Linked DNA regions of Homo sapiens: regions 2, 3 and 4 are each linked to region 1. Evidence: fine-mapped expression QTL. A gene starts in region 1. Each other region holds a variant in brackets. All regions are shown on one strand. Distances are between the middles of the regions.

The links. PIP is the estimated chance that this variant, and not a neighbour inherited with it, causes the effect. A credible set is the group of variants that fine-mapping cannot tell apart.
Region 2: its variant is the best candidate, but not a certain one, in a credible set for the expression of PGAP3 in whole blood (TOPMed, PIP 0.69).
Region 3: its variant is the best candidate, but not a certain one, in a credible set for the expression of PGAP3 in subcutaneous fat (GTEx, PIP 0.79).
Region 4: its variant is the best candidate, but not a certain one, in a credible set for the expression of PGAP3 in whole blood (INTERVAL, PIP 0.54).

What each region holds. Positions count from the first base shown.
Region 1 is chr17:39,685,028-39,690,227 of GRCh38, forward strand. PGAP3 (post-GPI attachment to proteins phospholipase 3) reads right to left here and starts at 3,030. Exons shown (of 8, transcript NM_033419.5): 1 at 2,807-3,030; 2 at 895-992. The coding sequence starts at 2,987. It also overlaps a transcript of ERBB2 not described here. RefSeq lists enhancers at 3,049-3,158, 3,869-4,829 and a silencer at 4,109-4,403.
Region 2 is chr17:39,911,186-39,916,185 of GRCh38, forward strand. GSDMB (gasdermin B) reads right to left here. Exons shown (of 11, transcript NM_001165958.2): 3 at 1,141-1,312. Among named protein-coding and RNA genes, the nearest start is that of GSDMB, 4.9 kb to the right of the region's middle. The variant G/A (reference allele first, on the strand shown) is at 2,305.
Region 3 is chr17:39,503,972-39,509,171 of GRCh38, forward strand. The region is part of intron 6 of CDK12 (cyclin dependent kinase 12); the gene reads left to right. Among named protein-coding and RNA genes, the nearest start is that of CDK12, 45 kb to the left of the region's middle. The variant G/A (reference allele first, on the strand shown) is at 3,177.
Region 4 is chr17:39,473,979-39,479,178 of GRCh38, forward strand. The region is part of intron 2 of CDK12 (cyclin dependent kinase 12); the gene reads left to right. Among named protein-coding and RNA genes, the nearest start is that of CDK12, 15 kb to the left of the region's middle. The variant C/T (reference allele first, on the strand shown) is at 2,340.

The sequences.
Region 1 (5,200 bases):
TGGAAACAGCACAGAGTTGCCATCCAGAAGACACAGGTCCCAACCCCTCCTCTACCACTGACCACGGTCCTTTGAGCCTCAGCTTACTCTGTGAAAAACTGGGGTGAATACTTCCTGCCAACCTCAACAGGCCAGAATGAGATAATACTGGATTGAAACGTACCAGCAGGCCAGGCGCGGTGGCTCACGCCTGTAATCCCAGCACTTTGGGAAGCTGAGGCGAGAGGGTCACAAGGTCAGGAGATTGAGACCATCCTGGCTAACATGGTGAAACCCCATCTCTACTTAAAAAAAAAAAAAAAAAAATACAAAAAATTAGCTGGGTGTGGTGGCACACACCTGTAGTCCCAGCTACTTGGGAGGCTCAGGCATGAGAATTGCTTGAACCTGGGAGGTAGAGGTTGCAGTGAGCCAAGATCATGCCACTGCACTCCAGCCTGGGCGACAGAGGGAGACTCCATCTCAAAAAAAAAAACAAAAAACAAAAAACAAAAGAAAGAAAGGTACCAGCAAACTGTGCCTCGCTAGACAAGCTGAAGCATATTACTGTGAATCCAGACCCCTACTGGAGAAGCAACAGGAAACAAGCCACAGTAGGTAAGGGAATTTGTCCCTGCAGTAAGGTGGGCATCTCAACCACTCTAAGAGGCCCAGCACCACTCTCTGGGGAGACTCCAAAGCCTTCCAGATATTGCTACTCCAAATCCAGAGGCAGGACACATGGGTCCTATCCAATTCTATGGAAACCAGCAGATTTTGGGGAGAACAGGTAGCTGCCCCAAACACACACGCATTACCCCATGCCTCAGACTGCTTGGACAGTGTGGTCCAACCAGGGGGTATATTACTCCTACCACGCTACTACCATATGCCTACCCTGACCCTCCAACTCACCTTGCCATGGAACTGAGGCACTTTGTGACCTTCCTGGAGGTAGAGCCCAACGGTGACCCACATACACTCATACTTACAGTCGTCCCGACAGGTCCAGCCTGAAACAGACAAATGTGGCCTGGTGAACTCCCCAGCACAGAGAGGAAAGAGAGAGCATGAATGGGGTCCAAGCGCAAATGTAGGCCAAGAGGGCCTGTAAGTTGGAGAGAACCAGGAGAAATCTCAAAATTCTAGCTTCCCCTTTGAATGAATGAGAGATGATGAGATGTACACATAGGGGAAGGTGTATGTACGTATGTATGCATATTTTAGTGAGCAATTAGAGATATTCGTCTTTTTTTTGTTTGTTTTTTTGAGACAGTTTTGTTTTTGTTGCCCAGGCTGGAGTGCAATGGTGCGATCTCGGTTCACTGCAACCTCCGCCTCCTGGGTTCAAGCGATTCTCCTGCCTCAGGCTCCCGAGTAGCTGGGATTACAGGCATGCACCACCACACCCAACTAATTTTGTATTTTTAGTAGAGATGGGGTTTCTCCATGTTGGTCAGGGTGGTCTTGAACTCCCAACCTCAGGTTATCTGCCTGCCTCTGCCACCTAAAGTGCGGGGATTGCAGGCACGAGCCACCGCACCCGGCATTTTTTTTTTTTTTTTTTTTTTGAGACAGGGTCTCGCTCTTTCATCCAGGCTGGAGTGCAGTGGGGAGAGCATGGCTCACCACAGCCTTGACCTCCTGGGCTCAAACGATCCTCCCACCTCAGCCTCCCAAGTAGCGAGACCACAATGTCTGGCTAATTCTTTTATTTTTTGTAGAGAAGGCATCTTGTCATGTTGCCTAGGCTAGTCTTGAACTCCAGGGCTCAGATGATCTTTCTACCTTGGCAGACATTTCCTCTCCTTTTGCTCAAGTCCATCAAGATGTTGGCATCTGATGAACTCATCTATGGAAACCTGGGTTTATATTTGTCCTTCCTGAATATAGGATTTGCTCTTACTCTCCTGGAAGGAGTTCTTGCTATCTTACTCCCTTCCTATGAAAATGAAGCCCAAATTCTTCAACCTGACTTTTGAGGCTCCAAATTGCCTTTCCAACCGTATTGGTCACTACTCCTGTTCATGTACCCTGCTCCCTGAGTAAATAAAGCTCCTGGATGTGCCCACATCTGCCCAGGGCATCCATTCTCTCTGTTCCCTCTGTCTGGAATGCAAAGTGGTATAATAGTAAAGAGGACAAGCTTGTGGTCAAACAGGCCAGAACTGGAAACTCCACTTTACTACATACTGGCTGTGTGACCTTGGGCAGGGCATTTAATCTCTCTAATCCCCATCTGTAAAACTGGGATTAGAGAAACTATCTCAAAGGGTGTGATAAAAATTACTTGACATATTGTGACACCTGTCACACAGTGAGTGCTCAATACGTTGGTTCTTTGCCCACTATGGTCCAAATCGAATGTACCAGTCCAAAGTCCCTCCTTCAAACAAAACGTTCCAAGATGATCCCTGCCCCCACGTCTTCAAAGCCGGAACTGACACCTTCCTATCCCAAATGCTTCCTAATCAAAGAGTCTTTCAGGGGCTCAAATCATTCTCTGCCTTGCACTTGAAAAGGCTCATGTCCCCGTGGGGACTGTGAGTCCCAATGGGCGGGACCCTGGTCTGATTTCTGTGCCATTCCTAGACATTGTGGCCCGAATGTATTTAATAAATACCCTTTTGACTGAACAAATAAGTAAATGAAAGCTTCTGGGAAAGTAAGAGAGGCTGGTAAGGCTCTCATCACCTTAGGGGCTTCACTCACATTCATAAGAGACCTCGTGGGGAAACTAAGGTTCAGGGATTGCAGAGGCGTATTGGGGGCGCAGGGGGCGGGAGCAAGACAAATGGGCGGGGCTTACCGTGGGGGTGGGGCTTACCTGCTAGACTCATGTAGATTGGCTGGCGGGAGCGGAAGTGATTCAGAGCGCCCCCAGAGCAGTTCTGCTCTTCGCACTGCAGTACGCAGTCGCGGTACACCGGCTCACGGTCGCCCTGGGAGCCGCTCGCCAGCGCCGCTGCCCCAGCTAGCAGGACCAACCGCGCCGCCAGGCCGGCCATCCTTTCTCCCTGGCTCGCCGCCGGGGGAGGAGCTTAGGAGTATGAAGCTTCCACTTCCGGAGTAACCGGAAGTTCCTGTGTTCTTTATTCTACTCTCCGCTGAAGTCCACACAGTTTAAATTAAAGTTCCCGGATTTTTGTGGGCGCCTGCCCCGCCCCTCGTCCCCCTGCTGTGTCCATATATCGAGGCGATAGGGTTAAGGGAAGGCGGACGCCTGATGGGTTAATGAGCAAACTGAAGTGTTTTCCATGATCTTTTTTGAGGTAGGGCTGTTTACTGTCACCACCCCTGTCGGATTTTACTTCCTAAACGTACCTGTAACTATCCACTTCTCTCCATCTCTTCTGGCACCACCCTGGTTAAAGACACCATCATGTGTCGCCAAGACAGCCGCAGTAGCTTCTTAATGGCTCTCCCTGCCTCTACTTTTGCCTCTTCCAACCTGCGCTCCATTTTGAAAAATTAAAATTTGCCCATATCACTTTTTTTTTCTTAAAATTATTTACTGGCTCCCAATTACCTTGGGTAAAATACAGTCTCCACAAACCCTGCCTGATTTGGCCCCTGTCCACTGGTCTCCCTCACTCCCTTGCTCCAGACCCGCTTCAGAGGGCTATGTCCCTCAAGCTTCCTGACTGCCTGGCCTGGTCTGAATCACTCACTCTTCTTTTTTCTTCTAGTCGCAATTGAAGTACCACCTCCCGAGGGTGATTGCTTCCCCATGCGGGGTAGAACCTTTGCTGTCCTGTTCACCACTCTACCTCCAGCACAGAATTTGGCTTATGGTAGGCGCTAACTGCGTTTGTTTGTTCTTCTGTTTAATGAATGAACAGCATACATCAACATAAGAACTTGACAAATCCAGGGCTGTAAAATCATCAGTATGGTTCTGCACTGAGATCGGAGAGAAGTAATATTTCTAGGAAAATTAGGAACCCTGGGAACAGGACGCTTGCTTTAGTATCCTCTCCCTGCTCACCTCCCCTGCACTCCCATCAGCACCGACCCACACCCAATCTCATAGAAGCCTTGTAGCTAAGGATCACCCTTTCTCCTCCCCCACTCTCCTCACCCCTTGTCAACTTTTCTTTTTCGTCCTGGGGGTTGGAATGAGTAAGAAGTAGCCTGGGATTCCATTCACTCACTTAACAAACATTTCTGAGTCCTTAGCTCTAGCACCTTGCTAAGCAAGGCAAAATCTCCAGGAGGCACCATTCACATTGCATTTTCTGTGAATGGTGCTCTGGGGAGCAGCATTCACATTGCCTTTTCTGTGAATGGCAAATTCTTCCAGTTAAATATAACATGAATAGTGTCCCCTGGAGTTGACCACCCAACTGATACTGACTGAGAAGCTGAAATGAACAAAACAACCCCTTAGCCCTCCAGGAGCTGACCGGAAATCCAGTGCTAATACTACTTTGCATCTTACAGATTAGTTCTTTTACAATACTGTTTTTTTTTCTTTTTTCATTTCATTTTGTCCTTTCTGTGACTCTGGGATGAGTCTTTTTATGAGGATCCTCATATAAAGATGGACATTTAGGATTAAAGAGGATGAAATCCTGACAAAATAGGGAGTCTCCCCTTTAGAAAATTCCTAAGTAAGGCTGGGGGTGGTGGCTCACGCCTGTAATCCCAGCACTTTGGGAGGCCGAGGCGGACGGATCACCTGAGGTTAGGAGTTTGAGACCAGCCTGACCAACATGGAGAAACCCCATCTCTACTAAAAATACAAAATTAGTTGGGTGTGGTGGTGCATGCCTGTAATCCCAGCTACTCAGGAGGCTGAGGCAGGAGAATCGCTTGAACCCAGGGAGGCAGAGGTTGTGGTGAGCCAAGATTGCGCCATCGCACTCCAGCCTGGGCAACAAGAGCGAAACTCAAAAAAAAAAAAAAAAAGAAAAAGAAAATTCCAATTTTGAAGGCCTCATCCTATATTATGTCAAACATACTGAAATGCAGTAACGCCCCACATTAAATAAGATTTATAAATAACTATACATATATATAATTCAATCTAATTGCTGTTAATAGTTGACATATTGCTACATTTATATACATTTAGTTAAAAAAAATTTTTTTTCCCAGACAGCCTCTCACTCTTTCACCTAGACTGAAGTGCAGTGGCATGATCACGACTCACTGCAACCTCAACCTCCCAGACTCAAGTGATCCTTCCATCTCAGCCTCCTGAGTAGCTGGGACTGCA
Region 2 (5,000 bases), 230 kb after region 1:
GGTGGCGGGCACCTGTAGTCCCAGCTCCTCGGGAGGTTGAGGCAGAAGAATCTCTTGAATCCAGGAGGCAGAGGTTGCAGTGAGCCAAGAATGTACCATTGCACTCCAGCCTGGGCAACAAAAGTGAAACTCCATCTCAAAAAAAAAAAAAGGAAAAGGAAAAGAAAAAAGGTACCCGCTCCACTCAAGGAGAGCAAGGCCAGGAAAACTGTGGGTCACCTTCCCCTGAGCTACTCCTCAATCTCCAACAATCCCAGCTGAAGAAAACAACAACAGAACTATTGCTGAGGGGATGGCTAGTGATGTCCTCTTGAATTGGAAGCACCTGCCCACCAGCTACCAGAACCTCTGTGGCACTGGATCGGTGCCACCCTGCTGGGGTGGGGTGGCTGTACTCCATGCAGGAAACATCCTCCAAGGGGTTCTTTGCTTTCCTCGTGCTTCACTTCAGCTCTCTTTCACTCAGTACCTACTGTGTGCTTGGGGTCAATACAGAGAGGTTAGTAAAGTCAGTCCCTTGTCACAAGTTGCTTCCAGTCCAGTGGGAAAGACGAACATGGAAGCCACTGGCTTGCCCACAAGGCAGAGGGAAACAAGCACAAAATACTGATGTGGGCAGCTCAGTGCAGGAGAGCAGAGGAGAGCAAAGGAGAGTGCCTCTTAAACCACCAGGTTTGGAGGTGGAGGTTGCAGTGAGCCGAGATCATGCCATTGCACTCTAGCCTGGCCGACAGAGCGAGACTCCGTCTCAAAAAAAAACAAAACAAAAACCAAACAAAAAAAAAACAACCAGGTTTGTCCAAGTCAGAGGAATTAACCATCCTGGGGGACAGCAGGGATATGAGTGAATTGGGGGCATCAGAAGGCTTCCTGGAGACTGCTCCTGGGTGAATGAGAAGGCTTCTGGAGGCAGAGAAGAGGAAGGCGTGCTTGCGTAAAGGGGAGGGCTGAGGGAATCCTGGAAGTAGAGAGCGAGAGGCTGCCCTAGAGAGCCAGTCCCCCACAAAGCTCATGAAAAGCAGGGAAAAGAAAAATAAAAATAAATAAATTTTAAAAAGAGCCGGTCTGCCACCCTTGAATCCCTTGGTGCCCAAGATGGGCTTCTTCCCCTCCTTCCCTGCTGCCCAACTCCAACCTCACCTGTTTTCAAGGGTAGCCAGATACTGCTGGGATATCCGGTTCTCCGATATCTTGATTTTCTGATGGTGGAAGCCCTGGAAACTGCCTGAAATTGTTATTTCTTTGGGTAATCTCACTATCAACTCTCCCGTTGAGTCTACATTATCCAGAATTTGAAACTCAGCCTTTTGACCTGGAAAGAGAATGATAAAGGTCACTCTGGAGCAGACCCCCAAAAGATCTCTCTCCAAAACACCCTCCCTGGGGCAGCCCCATCCTGGGTTCCGTGCCACCATCCCCCTCCCTTCTGAGGGAGCGCCACAGCTGTGGCTGTCCAGGAAATGCTGTTCTCACCAGAAGCACAGTTACCTTGGGGTCACAGGATCCCAGATTTGAGCCCACTCCTCCACCTTCTTACCACATGACCTTGGGTAAGTCACTTAACCTCTTTGAATCTGTTTCTTCATCTATAGTAGGAGAATATTACTAATGTCTACTTCCTATATTTAGGGAAATTAGGGCTGGGCACAGTGGCTCACGCCTGTAATCCCAGAACTTTGGGAGGCTGTGGCAGGCAGATCACTTGAGGTCAGGAGTTCGAGACCAGCCTGGCCAATATGGTGAAACCCCGTCTCTACTAAAAAATACAAAAAGTAGCCAGGCCTGGTGGTGTGTGCCTGTAATCACAGCTACTTGAGAGGCTGAGGCATGAGAATCGCTTGAACCCAGGAGGCGGAGGTTGCAGTGAGCTGAGATCACACCACTGCACTCCAGCCTGGAGGAGAGTGACACTCTGCCTCTCTGCCTCAAAACAAAACAAAACAAAACAAGAAAAAGAAAAGGAAAGGAAAAGAAAAGAAATGAAGAAATTAAATATAATGATGTAGTTAAGCACTTAACCAAGTGCCTGGCATACATTCTAACTGCTTAATAATTGTAAGCCAGTCTTGTAGGCTGAAACAAGACAAAGAAAAGTAAAGCTAAAGAAGTAGGAGCCCCAGCCAATTGGGAAATAAAAATTAAGCAGTTCTGGGTGGGCACGGTGGGGTGGCTCACGCCTGTAATCCCAGCACTTTGGGAGGCTGAGGTGGGTAGATCACTTGAGGTCAGGAGTTGGAGACCAACCTGGCCAACATGGTGAAACCCCATCTCTACCAAATTAGTCGGGGGTGGTGGCACATGCCT[G/A]TAATTCCAGCTACTTGGGAGGCCGAGGCAGGAGAATCGCTTGAACCTGGGAGGCAGAAGCAAAGACTGCAGTGAGCCAAGATCAAGCCACTGCACTCCAGCCTGGGCGACAGCGAGACTCCATCTCCAATAAAAGCAGTTCTGTCGCTGTTGTTTGTATGAACCACACAAGTATGAAGTGAGGCAACCCTGGAAAGTCACAAACACGCATGGACTCGGCCCTGATTGATCAGGCACTAATAAGGGCCTTGGTTCTGAGTCAGTTGCCACCCCAGGTTCGTGGAGGATGTGTGGGCATGCCGAAGGGGCTGCGTGCCTTTGTCTCCAACCTCCCAGATGGGAACCTACAGGGGAGGGAGAGCTCCCACTGCTAGGTTTTGGAGGCAGGGCTGGATTTCCAAAGACAAATCCATTTTGGAACTGGTGGAAATGTGACAGAATTAGAAACAGTGACTGAAATCACTATTTGTGTGTACATGAGACACTAATGTCTTAGGGACCATTTGCTTCTTGAGCAGTGTAAAAGAAAAGAAAAATATCAGAGAGAAAAAGAAAAATAAAAACTATGTGCACAAAGAGTACTATATGAAGAAGAGGAAAAAGAGTAACTTCTGGTAGAGAAACCTGACAAACATTACCTCAGCCAAGTGATCAAGGTCAACATCAACAGTGATAGGTCATGTTGACAGTACGTACCCCTGATGTGATGTAATAGGAATGGTCCTTTACCTCTGTGGTCTTCCTCCCCGAGACCCAGAACCCAGTCTAACCATGAGAAAAAACATCAGCCAAATTCCAACAGAGGGACGTTCTACAGTATCCCTGACCAGTACTGCTCAAAACTGCTAAGATTATCCCAAACAGGTAAAGTCTGAGAAACTGTCACAGCCAAGAGGAGCCTAAGGAGACATGACAACGAAATGTAATGTAGGATCCTGGATGGGATTCTGGAATAGAAAAAGGACACTAGGTCAAAACTAAGATAACATGGGCTGGGTGCAGCGGCTCACACCTGTAATCCCAGCACTTTGGGAGGCCAAGGCGGGCGGATCACCTGAGGTCAGGAGTTCAAGACCAGCCTGGCCAACATGGTGAAACCTTGTCTCTACTAAAAATACAAAAAATTTGCCAGGTGTGGTGGCAGGCACCTATAATCCCAGCTACTCGGGAGGCTGAGGCAGGAGAACCACTTGAACCTAGAGGTGAAGGTTGCAGTGAGCCGAGATCGCGCCACTGCTCTCCAGCCTGGGCAATAGAGCGACACTCCATCTCAAAAAAAAAAAAAAAAAAGTTAATGTGAATAAAGTATGGACTTTAATAACAAACACAAAATCCTATGCACACTTTTTTTTTTGTTTTTTTTTGAGACGGAGTCTTGCTTTGTCGCCAGGCTGGAGTGCAGTGGTATAATCATGGCTCACTGTGCAACCTCCACCTCCCAGGTTCAAGCAATTCTCCTGCCTCAGCCTCCCGAGTAGCTGGGATTACAGGCATGCGACACCACGCCCAGCTAATTTTTGTATTTTTAGTAAAGACAGGGTTTTGCCATGTTGGCCAGGCTGGTCTCGAACTCCTGGCCTCAAGTGATCCGCCCGCCTCAGCCTCCCAAAGTGCTGGGATTACAGGCATGCGCCATCATGCCCAGCTAATTTTTGTATTTTTAGTAGAGACAGGGTTTCGCCATGTTGGCCAGGCCAGACTTGAACTCCTGACCTCAAGTGATCCACCCGCCTCAGTCTCCCAAAGTGCTGGGATTACAGGCGCGAGCCACTGTGCCCAGCCCTATGCACACTTTAACTGCACCATCAGCATTATACAGTTACAAAATAACCCATTTAAATAGGGAGCAGACCAAGCTAAAAATCAATTCAAATTACCAATTCCCATCATTGTAAGGATTTTCTTTTTAAGTTTGGTTTCACCTCTGCCTCCGAATTTTGTATGCACACAGATGAGCTTTTCCTTAAAGGAAGTTGACTGACTTAGTCAATTTTTTTTTCCCAGACTTAAACTTTGCCCTGTCCCTGGGGAGTAATATTATTGTGGCAAAACATCCTAGTTCTGGGTTAAAGTATTTTTCCATTTTCAGTGAATTGATCATTTGGCAAACTGATTTTTTTTTTTTTTTTTGAGAGCTGACTTTTAGCAAATTGGCTCTTAGCAATTTACTTTTCAGAGAATTGACTCAGTCTTTGAAAGATGCGAATCTGAAATTTCTCCAAAAGCCCCTTGCTTGCTTAACGAAACTCTGCTTGTGGAAAGGTCCACCACCTCCAAGTAATCTGGGTACTGCTCTTGGTCACTTAAAGCAGTTCCTGGCACACTGTAATACTCTAAAGCTGCTCAGGGCTGTTAGAGCTCTTTTCCGTCTCTTGGCATGAGACCTCATAAAAAGAAATGGACTGTATCAGAGAGGTCTGAGCTATGAGCGCCTTGCTATTGTTCATATTATGAAATATTTTTTCACATTATGAAATATAATGAACTCCTCACCATATTCCACTTTGGGCTCCAAGTGAGAGTTCAACACTTAACCCTGGGGCTTCTGAAACCCAAGTACCCCAGGAATAACTGAGATCAGAGGCAGGGGGTTGGAATAATTGACTCTTCCATAAATTCCCTCAATACCTTAGGGATTTCTGCTCATCAGAAACTTCCCCTTCAGTCTTGATAGCCAAGGAACATGAAAGGATAAT
Region 3 (5,200 bases), 180 kb before region 1:
GACCCTCTAAGAACTTCGTAATAAATGGTCAGTGCTGGAAATAACCCAGACACCACTAGTAGGGATGGACTCGGTAGATCTGTAGACTTTGGTTGAGTGAGTGTATGGTAGATAATGAATTAGAGAAAGTAAGATAACTCACAGGTTTCTGACTTGAAAAACTAGCTAGATGGGTGGCACTACTAGTCAATACAAGGAAGATGGAAGAGTAGGATGGATGGAGTAACAGGCAAATCTCTTTTGAATATGTCTTTTATATATCCAGGGTAGTGATATTTAATAGCATATGGTCATTTGGGAATTCCAAACTACCAATACAGAGTTGGTAGTTACAGAACATAGAAAAGATGTCAGAAATGTAACCCAAGAGAGATGGTCAGAGAGATAGGAAGAAAATAAGGAAAATATGAATGCAAGATAGGCAGGTTTAAGAAGGGAGTGGTGATTGATGTCAGATGATGCAGGCAAATTATAAGAGAATCTGAAAATTAAAAGGTCAGTAGTGATAATTAGTGTGGAGTAAGGGGTTGAGTAGCACAGTTAATGGGAAGGTACTGGTAGGGGGTGTCTTTAATTTTTAATTTTAAGGATGGCAGAGATTTGAATATATTTAAATGCTAAGGGGAGGCCAACGTGGTGGCTCACATGTGTAATCCTAACACTTTGGGAGGCTGAAGTGGGCAGGTCACTTGATGCTAGGAGTTCGAGACCAGCCTGGCCAACATAGCAAAATTCTGTCTCTACTAAAAGTACAAAAATTAGCTGAGCTTGGTGGTGCACGCATCTAATCCCAGCCACGTGGGAGGCCAAGGCATGAGAACTGCTTGAACCTGGGACACAGAGGTTGCAGTGAGCAGAGATTGCCACCACTGCACTCCATCCTGGGTGACAGAACAAGACCCTGTCTCAAAAAAAAAAAAAAAAAAAACGCTAAGGAGAAAGAAAATCTATAAAAAGGGAGCAGTTGAAGATTTGGGGGCCAGGCGCAGTGGCTCACACCTGTAATCCCAGCACTTTGGGAGGCCGAGGCGGACGGATCATGAGGTCAGGCGTTCAAGATCATCTTGTCCAACATGGTAAAACCCCGTCTCTACTAAAATACAAAAAATTAGCTGGGCATGGTGGCGCATGCCTGTAATCCCAGCTACTTGGGAGGCTGAGGCAGCGGAATCACTTGAACCCAGGAGACAGAGGTTGCAGTGAGCTGAGATCGCGCCACTGCACTCCAGCCTGGCAACAGAGCAAGACTCCGTTTCAAAAAAAAAAAAAAAAAGGCCAGGCGCGGTGGCTCACACCTGTAATCCCAGCACTTTGGGAGGCCAAGGCGGGCAGATCACGAGGTCAAGAGATCGAGACCATCCTGGCCAACATGGTGAAACCCCGTCTCTACTAAAAATATAAAAATTAGCTGGGTGTGGAGGTGCGTGCCTGTAGTCCCAGCTACTCAGGAGGTTGAGGCAGGAGAATCACTTGAACCCGGGAGGTGGAGGTTGCAGTGAGCTGAGATCGCACCACTGCACTCCAGCCTGGTGACAGAGCGAGACTCCGTCTCAAAAAAAAAAAAAAAAAAAAGATTTGGGAAAGAACCAAAATAATTTAAAGGAGCATATTTCTAGAATAGATGGGATCAAGGCCACAGATGGAGGGATTGATTATCCTTGGTCAAGAAAAGAGATTGACATGCTTTTTATGTACCATTGACCGTTGAACAACGCAGGTTTGAACTGTGGCATGTCCACTTATACACAGATTTTATCCAACCAAAAACAAATAAAAAACAGTGTTTGCAGTATATGCAACCTGTTTATATGGAGTACCAGTGTTTCATATATGCAGGTTCTATAAAGCGTACTGCAGGACTTGAGTTTGCTTGAATTTTGGTATATGTGGGAGTCTTGGAACCAATTGCTAGATATACTAAGGGATGACTGTAATTAAAAGGAAAGAGGAAAGTAAAATTATAGATGGAAGTAAGTTTACTGGTAAAAGGTAGGATGTTAAGGACCTCTCACCTAATGACTTTAATTTTTTCACTGAAAAAGGTCATTTACTAAGTAAGTGTAAGAGGGTAGGGGATGGATTAGAGCATTAAGGAGAATGCCAGAGGTCTGTAATGACAGCCATGTTGAATGGAAGTTGCTGATTACAGACAAGTAAAAGGACTAACCAGCAGCATTCAGGAATTAACAGAGAGAGGAAATCACACATTTTGCAGTGACACCATACAATATGATTATATGATTTTTTTTTTTTTTTTTTTTTTGAGATGGAGTCTCACTCTGTCACCAGGCTGGAATGTAGTGGCGCTATCTCGGCTCACTGCAACCTCTGCCTCCCGGTTCAAGCCCTTCTCCTGCCTCAGCCTTCCGAGTAGTTGGGAATACAGGCGCATGCCACCACGCCTGGCTAATTTTTGTATTTTTAGTAGAGACGGGGTTTCACCATGTTGGCCAGGCTGGGTCTCAAACCTCTGACCTCAAGTGATCCACCCACCTCAGCCTCCTAAAGTGCTAGGATTACAGACGCGAGCCACCACGCCTGGCCAATTATATGATTTTTATTCTTTACACTTGTGTTCAGCTCTCTAGGTAGAGCAGAAAAGACAGATTTTCTAATGATCCAGAATTAGGGACTTAGGGATTAGCTATATCACAAGCTAAGGCAACGAGGAAGACAATAGTTTGGTTAATTAACCAAGGGGTCCAGGTAGGCAAGGGAAGGAAGTATTACGTGAAAGAGGGCTGAACTGGGAGTGAGTGGAGGCACTGTGTACTTGAAGTTCTTCTCAAAAGGCAAAAATGTTAAACCATGGTCTCAGAAAGGATTCTCCAGATATTTCTATATTCACCTTATTCCTTTGAGACAGGACATAAACAATATGATGGCACTTCTTTTGTATTGTATTTTATTTTGTTTATTTACTTATTTTATATTTTATTTTTTGAGATGGAGTCTCACTGTGTCACCCAGGCTGGAGTGCAGTGGCACAATCTCAGCTCACTGCAACCTCCGCCTCCCAGGTTCAAGCGATTCTCCCACCTCAGCCTCCCAAGTGGCTAGGACTACAGGTGTCTGCCGCCACGCCCAGCTAATTTTTGTATTTTTAGTAGAGACAGGGTTTTACCATGTTGGCCAGGCTGGTCTCAAACTCCTGACTTAAGTGGTCCGCCTGCCTC[G/A]GTCTCCCAAAGTGTTGGGACTACAGGCGTGAGCCACTGCGCCCGGCCTGTTCTATTTTATATTGCAAAAAGTTACAAGTACTTCCACACTTCATACTGAGTCACCTTAATGGTTTAGTTGGAAGGAAAAGTGGGAGTCAGTAAAAGTGCTATCAGCGGCCGGGCGCGGTGGCTCATGCCTGTAATCCCAGCACTTTGGGAGGCCGAGGCAGGCGGATCACCTGAGGTAGGGAGTTCAAGACCAGCCTGACCAACATGGAGAAACCCCATCTCTACTAAAAATACAAAATTAGCCGGGCGTAGTGGCACATGCCTGTAATCCCAGCTACTCGGGAGGCAGAGGTTGTAGTGAGCCGAGATAGCGCCATCGCACTCCAGCCTTGGCAACAAGATTGAAGCTCAGTCTTAAAAAAAAAAAAGTGCTATCAGCAGGTTCTGTAGCAGACTAAATTCGTTTAATAAACATTTATTTAGTACCTAGTATGAGCCAGGCAGGAAATATGTTAGATGCTGGTGATATTCAGGTCTACACTGATTTCTGTAACTATATATCCATTTCCATTTTGACTTTCAGTCCTACTATGTGCCTTGAATCTTACATAATTTCAGGCTTTCAGAGTAAGGATGCCAAGTAATTTGAGGAATCATCTTTGTCTTAATATAAGTTAACTATTTCTTGTTGCTTTTCTCACAATTTGCTTATAAATTGAACTTAATGTAATGGTGTTTGGGGCAAGTGGATAAGGTACCTTTAACTTCACTAGGAATAAGCATTGATTTAATGTAGAAGTTTGTTGCTAGTAGTTACCTTGTTTTAATATTGTCACATGTCCATATTTTGGGGAGCACCTCTTGGCCTCTTTTCTGTACTACATGTTGAGTATCCCCTGTGCTTGAGACGAGAATTCTTTTGGATTTCAGATTTTTTTTAGATTTTGGAATATTTACATTATACTTACTGGTTCTGAACATCCAAAATCTGAAATGTTCCACTGAGCATTTCCTTTGAGTGTCATGTTGGCACTCAAAAAGTTTCAGATTTTGCTTCAGACGGCGGGGGGAGAAGGTTCTGAAAAATTTTGGATTTCACATTTTTGGATTTGGATGCACAATCTATATCTCACTTTTTTGCCTGATCTGAACTATTAGACACCTACACCAGCTTCCTATAAGACAGTGAGCTGGCTTTTCATGTCCCAAGAAGTAGCAAGGCTGTAAATATGACTAAACAGGTTACATGAATTTAGATAAATATCATTAATCCAAAGTAGTCAATAAGTAGTTGTTGGGTTTTGCATTGCCCACCCCCTCCAATAAATAAATAGTTTTAAAATAGATTCCCAACATCTCGTCTTGCAGTTTTCAAAAATATTCCTTCATGCAGGAGGAGAGAGAGCATCAGGAAAAATAGCTAATGCTTGCTGGGCTTAATACTTAGGCGATGGGTCAATAGGTGCAGCAAACCACCATGGCACACATTTACCTACGTAACAAACCTCATGTACCCTGGAACTTAAAAAAAAAAATTCCTTTATATCACTGTCAAGGATAGAATACTGAGCAGAGGCCAGTCATGGTGGCCCATGCCTGTACTCCCAGCCCTTTGGGAGGCTGAGGAGGGAGGATCACTTGAGCACAGGAATTTAAGACCAGCCTAGGCAACATAGGGGAACTCTGTCTCTACAAAAAATAAAATAATTAGCTGGACATATTGGTGCACACCTATAGTCCCAGCTACTTGGGAGGCTGAGGCTGGAGAATCACTTGAACCTGGGAGATCATCAAGGCTACAGTGAGCCAGGGTTACACCATTGCACTCCAGCCTAGGTAATAGAGTGAGACTCTGTCTCAAAAAAAAAAAAAAAAAATCAGCAGAGTGAAACATGGTTGGGATCTCCTTGAAGTGATTCTCAAAGCCTGATTCTCAGGCCAGCTGCATTGGCATCACGTATGGGCCTGTTAGAAATGCAGATTCATGAGCCATGTTCTACTGAGTCAGCATCTCTAAGAATGGGGCCCAGGAA
Region 4 (5,200 bases), 210 kb before region 1:
CTCAGGAGGCAGAGGCTGCAGTGAGCCGAGGTCATGCCACTGCACTCCAGCCTGGGTGACAGAGCGAAACTTTGTCTCAAAACAGTATATATGTATTTCCTTAATATCTTGACAGGACTAACTAGGCAAGTACCACCAAACACACTTGCTTTAGCAGTGACATGTGATGGCAGTCTTTGTGTTATGGTTTGCTTATTCTACTGTGATATTGTGCTCTTTGGGATGTGAATTGCATTTATTGAAACAAACTTTTCATTGTAAGCACAAAATTAAGTGCCACCGATCTTGCATCCTAGCCTAATTCCCAAGCCTTCATTCCTTTCAAGGTGATAATTGTAATTTTATTTCATTTTATTTTGAGACAGGATCTGGCTCTGTCCCCCAGGCTGGAGTGCAGTGGTGTGATCTGGGCTTATTGCAACTTCTGCCTCCCAGACTCAAGTGATCCTCCCACCTCAGCTTCCTGACTAGTTGGGATTACAGGTGCATGCCACTACACCCGGCTAATTTATTTTTTGTAGACATGGGGTTACATCATGTTGCCCAGGTTGGTCTTGAGCTCCTGGACTCAAGTGATCCGCTTGCTTTGGCCTTCCAAAGTGTTGGGATTACAGGCATGAACCACCACTCCCGGCCAATATTGGTCATTTGAATGATGATACATTGCAGCCCTCTGGGTGAGAAAGTATGTTTTTTCGTACCCTCTGTTCTTTAGAGAAGATGCAAGTACAGTAAATGGAAAGGGGGAAAAAAACTATTTTAAGGAATGGCTCCATCACTATAGAAAGAAATATGATGTTTCCTTTTTTTTTTTTTTTTTTTTTTGGCATTACCAGACTGCCAAAATCTGATTTTTTATTTTTATTTTTTTTTGAGATGGAGTCTCTTTCTGTTGCCCAGGCTGGAGTGCAATGGCGCGATCTCAGCTCACTGCAGCCTCTGCCTCCTGGGTTCAAGTGATTCTCATGCCTCAGCTCCTCTGAGTAGCTGAGATTACAAGCATGTGCCACCATGCCTGGCTAATTTTTGTATTTTTAGTAGAGACAGGGTTTCACCATGTTGGCCAGGCTGGTCTCGAACTCCTGACCTTAAATGATTCTCCCACCTGGGCCTTCCAAAGTGCTGGGATTACAGGCATGAGCCACTGCACCCAACCCAAAATGTGATTTTAAAGAAAAATTCCATATACTCTTTCTAACATTAATAGGTATTTATGGACTGAGCTTTGTGGATGTAATCCCAGTACTTTGGGAGGCCATGGTGGGAGGACTGTTTAAGGCCAGGAGTTCAAAACCAGCCTGGACAACAACATAGTGAGACCCCATCTCTATAAAACATTTAAAAATTAGTTGGATGTGGTGGCAGGTACCTTTAGCCCTAGCTACTTGGGAGGCTGAGGCAGGAGGATCACTTGAGCCCAGGAGTTCAAGGCTACGGTGAACTATGATTGGGCCACTGTACGCCAGCTTGTGTGAAAGAGACCCTGTCTTTAAAAATAAAATTTTAATTAAAAAGTAATAACAAATTCTGCCACGTGATGAAAATTACAGAAGAGAAGAGAACCTGAAATTTTTTTTTTTTTTTTTTGAGACGGTGTCTCACACTGTTGTCCGGGCTGGAGTGCAGTGGCGATCTTGGCTCACTGCAAACTCCATCTCCCAGGTTCAGGCGATTCTTCTACCTTAGCCTCCCGAGTGGCTAGGATTACAGGTGCCTGCCACCACGCCCAGCTAATTTTTTGTATTTTTAGTAGAGACAGGGTTTCACCATGTTGGCCAGGCTGGTCTCGAACTCCTGACCTCGTGATTCGCCCACCTAGGCCTCCCAAAATACTGAGATTACAGGTGTGAGCCACCATGTCAGGAACAGAATCTCAAATTTATGTGGAAAAAATTAACTTGAGGTCCAAAATATAGATAGATAAAAGCCATAGATAAAAAGATAAAAGCCATATTTTTATAGTTTTTGTTGGAAAAGGAAATAGTTGAGCATTGTCCAAAGGGACCCTGGCCCTTTAGCTATAGGAACCTCATTTCAATACTTGTTTACATAGTGGCTAGAATATTAATGTGGGTAAGAATCTTGATTTTTTTTTTTTTTACTTCAGAAAAATGTTTAGGAAACAAAAAGCATCTTGATGATTTTTTTCTTTTTTGAGATAGATTCTCTCTCCATAGCCAGGCTGGAGTGCAGTGGCAAGATCTTGGCTCACTGCAACTTCCCAGGGTTCAAGCGATTCTCCTGTCTCAGCCTCCCGAGTAGTTGGGACCACAGGCACCCGCCACCACACCCAGCTAATTTTTGTATTTTTAGTAGAGGTAGGGTTTCACCATATTTCT[C/T]CTGGATGGTCTCGATGTCTTGATCTCATGATCTGTCCGCCTCAGCCTCCCAAAGTACTGAGATTACTGGCATGAATCCCCGTGCCCCAACTATTTATTATTTTATTTATTTATTTTTTGAGATGGAATTTTTGCCCTTGTTGTCCAGGCTGGAGTGCAGTGATGTGATCTCGGCTGCATCCGCCTCCCGGGTTCAAGCAATTCTCCTGCCTCAGCCTCCCAAGTAGCTGGGATTGCAGGCACCTGCCACCATGTTCAACTAATTTTGTATTTTTAGTAGACAATGGGTTTCGCCCTGTTGGCCAGGCTGGTCAGGAACTCCTGATCTCAGGTGATCTACCTGCCTTGGCCCCACAAAGTGCAGAGATTACAGGCATGAGCCACCATGCCTGCCTTTTTTTTTTTTTTTTTTTTTTTTTTTTTGAGACAGAGTTCTGCTCTGTCGCCCAGGCTGGAGTGCAATGGGGCAATCTCAGCTCACGCAACCTCCGCCTCCCAAGTTCAAGCGATTCTCCTGCCTTAGCCTCCTGAGTAGCTTGGATTACGGGTGCCCACCACCACGCCTGGCTAATTTGTGTATTTTTATTAGAGATGGGGGTTTCACCATGTTGGTTACAAACTCCTGACCTTAAATGATCCACCTGCCTCGGGCTTCCAACGTGCTGGAATTACAGGCGTGAACCACCAAGTCCAGCCCTAATCTAATTATTATTATTATTTTTTGAGACAGTCTCACTCTGTTGCCCAGGCTGGAGTGCAGTGGTGCCATCTTGGCTCACCACAACCTCCACCACCAGGGTTCAAGCGATTCTCCTGCCTCAGCCTCCTGAGTAGCTGGGACTACAGGTGTGTGCCACCATGTCTGGCTAATTTTTGTAGTGTTTTTATTTTTGTTTTTGTTTTAGATGAAGTCTGGAGTCTCACTGTTGCCCAGGCTGGAGTGAGTCTCACCCTGTTGCCCAGGCTGGAGTGTAGTGGCGCGATCTTGGCTCACCACAACCTCCACCTCCTGGGTTCAAGCGATTTTCCTGCCTCAGCCTCCCAAGTAGCTGGGACTACAGGCGCATGCCACCATGCCCAGCTCATTTTTTTGTATTTTTAGTAGAGACGGGGTTTCACTGTGTTGGTCAGGCTGGTCTCGAACTCCTGACCTCAGGTGATCCACCCACCTTGGCCTCCCAAAGTGCTGGGATTACAGACGTGAGCCACTGTGCCCAGCTAATTTTTGTATTTTTATTTTTATTTATTTATTATTTATTTTTTTTTTTTTTTTGAGTCAGAGTCTTGCTCTGTCGCCCAGGCTGGAGTGCAGTGGCTCGATCTTGGCTCACTGCAAGCTCCACCTCCTGGGTCCACGCTATTCTTCTGCCTCAGCCTCCCGAGTAGCTGGGACTACAGGCGCCTGCCACCACGCCCAGCTAATTTTTTGTATTTTTTAGTAGAGATGGGGTTTCGCCGTGTTAGCCAGGATGATCTCGATCTCCTGACCTCGTGATCTGCCCACCTTGGCCTCCCAAAGTGCTGGGATTACAGGCGTGAGCCACTGCACCCCGCCTATTTTTGTATTTTTAGTAGAGACGGGGTTTCACTACATTGACCAGGCTGGTCTTGAACTCCTGACTTCGGGGTCTGCCTGCCTCGGCCTCCCAAAGTGCTGGGATTACAGGCATGAGCCACTGCACCGGGCCCATCTAATTATTTTTAAACATGATTTTTTTTTTTTTTAGCCATCTCCTCCTCCACCTCTTTTTTTTTTTTTTTAAGAGACGGGGTCTTGCTATGTTGCCCAGGTTTGTCCCAAACTCCTCAACTCATGTGATCCTTCCACCTTGGCATCCCTAAATGCTGGCATTACATGTGTGAGCCACTGAGTTTGGCCATTATTTTTTTTTTTGAGATGGATTCCTGCTGTCACTCAAGCTGGAGTGCAGTGGCTCAATCTCAGCTCACTGCAACTTCTGCCTCTGGGGTTCACATGACTCTCCTGCCTCAGCCTCCCCAGTAGCTGGGACTACAGGCGCATGCCACCATATCCGGATAATTTTTTTGTATTTTTAGTAGAGACAGGGTTTCATCATGTCATCCAGGCTGGTCCCGAACTCCTGACCTTAGGTGATCCACCTGCCTTGGCCTCCCATAGTGCTGGGATTGGAAGCATGAGCCAACGTGCCCAGCCCTGGCCATGATTATTATCAGTATTCTACATATAAATAAATTATTAAAGGTAGAAAAACGGAAATAGACCAGGTGCTGTGGCTCACTCCTATAATCCCAGCCCTTTGGGAGGCCAAGGCAAGAGGCTTGTTTGAGCCCATGTGTTTTAGGCTACATAGCCAGACCCTGTTTCTACCATTAAACAAGAAAAGGCATGATAGCATGCACCTGTGGTCTGAGCTACTTGGGAGACTGAGGTGGGATGATTACTGGAGCCTGGAAGGTCAGAGCTACAGTGAGCCATGATCGCACCACTGCACTCTAGCCTGGATAACAGTGAGATGTTGTATCAAAGAAAATGAGATGAGGATGTCTTCCATTATCAATTTTATTTTTTTATTTTAAATTCATGATGTGTTTCTGTTTCTATTTTGTATGTGTGTGTGTGCTGCTATATCCATGTACCAGCTGCTCCATATCCATGTACCAGCTGCTCCTATCTTTGACATGAAAAGTAATTTTTACATAGGAAAGCTTTTTAGAAAGAAATCTAATGGCCGGGTGCGGTGGCTCACACCTGTAATCCCAGCACTTTGGAAGGCTGAGGCGGGCAGATCACGAGGTCAGGAGATCGAGACCATCCTGGCTAACACGATGAAACCCCGTCTCTACTAAAAATACAAAAAATTAGCCGGGCATGGTGGCGG